2 separate regions of the Homo sapiens genome follow, and region 1 is linked to region 2. Evidence: fine-mapped expression QTL. A gene starts in region 2. The other region holds a variant in brackets. All regions are shown on one strand. Distances are between the middles of the regions. Region 1 overlaps PI16 (peptidase inhibitor 16). Region 2 holds the start of MTCH1 (mitochondrial carrier 1).

Region 1 (2,892 bases), 22 kb after region 2:
GCTGGAAAAAACATAGAGTAGACCGGGCGTGGTGGCTCACACCCGTAATCCTAGCACTTTGGGAGGCTGAGGCCGGTGGATCACCTGAGGTCAGGAGTTCAAGACCACCTGTTGACCAAACCCCGTCTCTACTAAAAATACAAAAATTAGCTGGGCGTGTTGGCAGGTGCCTATAATCCCAGCTACTCGGGAGGCTGAGGCAGGAGAATCGCTTGAACCCGGTGGGCGGAGGTTGCAGTGAGCCGAGATCACTTCACTCCAGCCTGGGCGACAAAGCAAAACTCTATCTCAAAAAAAAAAAAGAAAGTAAAAGAGGGGAGTGTCCTCCTTGGTTACAGGTCGGTTCCCAGCCCTGGCCTGACTTGGGTGGTGTCCTGTTTGACTGCTCACCTTCCAGCGGTGGTCTGGAGACTTGCTCTGCCCCTCCCTACCACCCAAGCCACCCTCAGTCATCCACCACTGCTACCCCAGCATATGTGTGCTTTCCTGATCCTCAGCACCTCTGGACAGTCCTGCTTTGCTCCCCTGGGGAGGGTCTGGGACTCCAGATCCCTTTCTTAGGACTCTTCCAAGCACCTGGGGCTGGCAGAGCCTTGCCTGATGTACATTTCTGACCTTGTGTCCCAGACAGGCCTGGATAGCAGCGCCCCCGTGAAGAGGCCGCATGCCATGCTTTGATCCTGGGCTCCAAACCTACCTAGGCCCCACTGGTGACTCCTGAAGCTGGGGGAGTCAGCCCAGCACCCTTGGCCTTCCTTTGGCTCTTCCCCTTCCTGCCTGCCACCTGTGATTAGGGGGAGGCGAGAGTTATAGGAAGGAAATGAAGGGTGGGTCCCAAAGAGGAGACACTAAATGGAGTGTTTTAGAGGAGGGGGATGAGAAAGAGAAGGAATAGTTGCCACAGGTTGGACAGGTTTTTATTGGAGAGTCAGGAGTTACTTTCCTTCCCTCGTCCCTGCCTCCCCCACTCAAAGAACCCCACTCCAGTGGGGCTTGTCCTTCATCTGCCCCTAGGAATCCCCATCCCCAGCTACACAGGCACTCAGGGAGAGCGCACATGCTGTGTGGGCAGACAGCCCCAGGCCAGGTAGGCAGTGAGCTCCCTCAAATCCTCCCACCCCCAGGACTCAGGAGGGAGGGGCAGGAGAGGTGTGGGCCCGGTGTGCAGTCCTCAGGCGGCCTCCTGAGCTCGCAGCCAGCCAGGCCTTGTGCCTCCAGGATGGATGGTGTGATGAGGCACATGCCCCGTAGCCTTTCCCTTCCGGAGGGCCTTAACCAAGAAGTATCTTGTTTAGGGGCTGGGGACAGGGTGGGGAAGATGACAGGAGGACAGCTGACCTCTTCACCCTGAGAAGGCAAGAGGCACTTCTGGGGAACAGTCCTGGACTCAGATGGCTCAAGGAAGAGGCCAGGGGACTGGGAGGGGCCCGGGGGTTCCTGGGAAGCCTGAGATCCTCTGTCTGGGAGAGAAGCTGATGGCCACAGGACAACCTGAGAGTGGGCACATGTAAATACCGCTCAGAACAGTCTGCAGCCAGCTGAAGGATGGGCCTACCCAGAGCCAAGGCACTCCTGGGGCAGTGCCAGGGGCTGGCCCTGTAGACGCCTCCCAGGAGGACAAGAGTGCTGGCCTGGAATCTGGCCAGAAGTTGGGGTGAAGGGGGGCTGCTGGGCCACAGAGCAGGACC[T/C]GCCCAGGAAGCTGTGGTCTCTCACTTGGAGGAAGACAATCCAGGTGGGTATGAGGCCAGGGCCCCCCTCACCAGGCCTTGCCTTTGAGTGGTATCCCCTTCAGAAGATTCCAGCCAACACCAGAGGAGGCAGGAGCAGTAGTCCCAGGAGAGGGCCCCACACATGACCAGGGCCCGAGTTCAGCCCTGACACGACGCTAGGCTTGTCAGGGCCCTCTGCACCTGTGGGAAGAAAGAGGCTTTGCCTCAGCCTAGAGACAGCTGTGCCTGATGTCCCGCCCACCCCACCATGCAAGGAGGTGGGGCAGCAGCCAGGGAGGAAGCTCCTACTCAGAGGGTGCATGCCCCACCATGCTCATACCACCTATGCTGGGGCAGGATACTGACATTCCAGAGCCAGGAGGAAAGTGGGACAGATGCTATGGGCCTTACCTGGCAAGGACGACTGCAGAGCCAGGGCACGCCCACCCGTGGCATTAGCGGTGGCAGAGGTATTGGGGAAATTGGGCAGGGACTTGGAGGAGGTGTGCCCCGTGTGGTCCAGTGTGGCCTGCAGCTCACCTGGCTTGTCCTGGGCTGGAAAAACTGAGGCCAAGACCTCACTGGAAGGAGGCAACTCAGCCTCAGCCTCAGCCTCCTCCTGGGCATGGGGTAGGAGTTCCCTTGCCCCTGTCAGGGACATCTTGGGGTCCAGAGAGTTCTCTGGGCTCCTAGAGGGCACTTTTGTTTTGTCTGTCACTTTGTCTGCTGATTTTGGGATAGGAACATGGGTCGATTTGGGGAAGGTAACTGGCTCCTCATCCAAGGAGGGCAGGCTGTGAGCTGCCAAAATGGAAGGGACCTCAGTTGTTACGCAAGGTGGAGCCTCTGTTGCCATGGAGGGCGGGTCTTTCGTTGCTAAGGAAGTTGGGGCCTGGGTTTCCACAGCAGGCAGAGCCTTGGTTGCCAGGGAGCCTGAGACCTCTGTTACCAAGAAAGCCGGAATCCCCGTTGCTAGGGAAGAAGGAGTACCCATTTTCCTAGAGTCTGATGCTTCAGTCGCCCGGAAGGATGGGGCCTCAGTTACCAGGTAAGGCAAATCCTGAGCATCTTCCGGGCTTCCGATGGGTTCTGATAAGACAGACGAGAACGGGCATGAGTGCTGCAAGCAGGACCCCACATCTCTCATGGCACTGCAAACCAAGTGACGCGACCAAATGTCCTA
Region 2 (2,899 bases):
ACTAGGACAAGCCTGGGTTAGGGAGGCCAAGGTGAGGGAGAGAGGGAGTGTGGCATGCTTTGAACGTGGAAAGTACATAGTGTTCATTATCAGGAGTGGGAAGAGGGGAGGTAGCTTTTTAGGGGGTAAGGCAGGAAGGGAGTTAGAAAGGACAGACTGGGAAACCCGGACTAACAGTGGCAGGTGTCGATCTAAAGAAATTTCTCACAATGAACTGGCTATAGACTAAGTACAGACAAAGGGACCAGGTCTTCCATTGCTGTGTCCCTGCACACTCTAGGATCCGTTCAAACAGAAACTTTTATTGCGAACCCCCAAAACTAGCACGGTTCTGTTGTAGGTGTTGTTGCAGAGTGTCGGGCACGTTTACAAACAGGAACAGGGCACTTGCTGTCCTATCTTCCTCGCAGGGTTCTTGTGACGATTACACTTAAATCAACACGTATAAAGCATTTTAAAAAGTGCCTGTCACATAGTCCCTGCAATTTAAGGTCTAGTTGTGATTATTCACTTGTATTAACTAAGAATCAACTACAGGCGCCTAGCAGTGCCTGCATGTGCTCACACTGAGGCACTCACTAAAACCCTCAGGATCTAGTGAGGGAGACAGTCAAATACTTTAGAGCAAAACAAATTTTACAACCACGGACTCTGAGGAAGGCGTGCGAAGGCTCCACAGCTGGGGAGGGTGCCCACAGTCGCCGAGGGGACATCTGGATTTGCTCTGGTTGGGAGAGCATTCCTGGCAGAGGAGATGGAAAATGCGATCGGACAAAGAGGCTGGGACCGCGGAGGGGATCGGGCTCGGGGTCGGGGCTCGTCCTGCAGCAGGAGATTCAGCTCGCGCAGAGTTCCACGCAGGCCGCGGCGACTGGGATCTGGGCCGCAAAGGGGCGGGCAGAGAACTGCAGAGAAAACTCCCGAAGCCAGGGAGGTGGCTTGGAAGCGCCTCAGACCATATTGGGGACGTCTGGCAGCCAGAGGCGCCGAACCCCGCCCCCGCGTGCTCTGGGCATCCCGGGGGAGCGCCCCGGCCTGCGGCTGCCGCCACAGCTCCCGAGCCCGGGGCCCCGGCTGCCCGCCACCATTGACCCCCGGCCCGCAGCCCAGTGTCCTGCTAGGCCTCCAACCGGCCGGGGAGCCACATCCGGCGTGTCCCACCCGCCGCACCACGCTCCCGAGCTCCCCCGCGGCCTGGAGTGGTGCGCCCCGGCCCCGCCCCCTGACGCCGGTGAGGGGGCGTGGCCCCGTCACGTGACGGGGAGTGACCTCGCCGCCGGGCGCCATGGGAGCTTCGGACCCGGAAGTGGCGCCCTGGGCTCGCGGCGGTGCCGCGGGGATGGCGGGAGCCGGAGCTGGAGCCGGAGCTCGCGGCGGAGCGGCGGCGGGGGTCGAGGCTCGAGCTCGCGATCCACCGCCCGCGCACCGCGCACATCCTCGCCACCCTCGGCCTGCGGCTCAGCCCTCGGCCCGCAGGATGGATGGCGGGTCAGGGGGCCTGGGGTCTGGGGACAACGCCCCGACCACTGAGGCTCTTTTCGTGGCACTGGGCGCGGGCGTGACGGCGCTCAGCCATCCCCTGCTCTACGTGAAGCTGCTCATCCAGGTGGGGGACCAGAGGCGCCGTAGGGAGATGGGAGGCTGATGTGAAGGTGACAGGCCAGGATTTGGAGGATTGGGGCGGGCAGTCAATGGCGACGGATTTGGGGAGAGGGGTGGGGACGGCGGGTTTGGGGGGCCGAGTGGGTGGGATGGGAGGGAAGCCGTGAGGGAGTTGGGAACGCAGGGGTCACGGGTTTTAGGATACAGAAAGGAGACCAAGGGGTTAGAGTAATAACAGATACGGGAGAGGGTGGAAGGAACAAGCGATTTGGGGGAGTGCCAAGGAGGGAGCGATGGGCTGGAAAAACATATTTGGGAGATAAAGGAGTGGGGACGATGGACTTGGGATAGGGAAGGGAGCGAATTTGGGGCGAGGGAAGAAGCAATAGAATTGGGGGAGGGGCAAGAAGTTTGGGTGAAGAGATGGGGAGGAAGGTTGGGGGCCCAGGCAAAGTGTTTAGAGAATGAGGAGCACATAATTGGGGTAGAGGGGAACGGAGGCTCTGGATTTGATAGAGATGGATTTAAAACGTCTTGGGGTGGGGACAAAGTGGGCGCCAGGGCCAGAAATTTAGGAGGGAAAGAAGGACACCAGACTGGGGGTGGACAGAGGAGACGGAGGTCTTGGGTTGCATTGTGATTTAATTTGGTGGGAGAGTGCGAAGGCAAAGACTTTTGCAGGGGAATGCTATCGGTTTACCGGAGATGGGGGCTCTGGATTTGATGGCGACGACGGATTTGGTAGGAGGAGGGGACAGGGTGACGCGTATGGGGGGAGGGGAACAGATAGGGCCAGCATTGGGGGAGGGGAGTGGCAGCGATTTGTCTAGAGAGGGGAGCTAGGAGGAGGCTTTAAGCGGGGAAGGGGGATGACGCATTTGGAGGAGGAAATGGAAGTCATAGTTGGGGTCAGAGAGAGGAATCACAGTGCTTGTATCTGGGCAGATGAGGAGAAGGGGCACGGGAGTATTGAAATTGGGCAGAAGGGACAGTGGAGACATAGGTGGCAGGATAGGTAGGGACTACCAGAAATTGAGACCGAGGTAGGGATGTCTCTGGAACAGAGGGATGCATAGGCACTTGGCAGATTTGGTGGTGGCCAGCAATGCGGTACAGATGAAGTGTGCTGCTTGAGGAGTGAGCTGGAATGAAGGGCGTGTGGAGGTGTGAGAATTAGGTGGGTGTGGCTGGGATGGGTACAGTTTTGATGGGGGTCATTAGGCCAGAATTTTCCAGTTAAGAAGCTTGGGGGGAGGAAGGTAAAAATTGAATTGGAGACCCATCCAAGATTTGAGTT

What was found.
Region 1: its variant is fine-mapped to the expression of MTCH1 in whole blood (TOPMed, PIP above 0.99).

What each region holds. Positions count from the first base shown.
Region 1 is chr6:36,962,841-36,965,732 of GRCh38, reverse strand. PI16 (peptidase inhibitor 16) reads right to left here. Exons shown (of 7, transcript NM_153370.3): 5 at 2,121-2,798; 6 at 1,771-1,910; 7 at 896-1,347. The coding sequence ends at 1,789. Among named protein-coding and RNA genes, the nearest start is that of PI16, 9.5 kb to the right of the region's middle. RefSeq lists enhancers at 1,463-2,087, 2,088-2,713. The variant T/C (reference allele first, on the strand shown) is at 1,689.
Region 2 is chr6:36,984,560-36,987,458 of GRCh38, reverse strand. It overlaps MTCH1 (mitochondrial carrier 1), which reads left to right and starts at 1,263. Exons shown (of 12, transcript NM_001271641.2): 1 at 1,263-1,606. The coding sequence starts at 1,286. RefSeq lists enhancers at 659-868, 987-1,709 and a silencer at 959-1,548.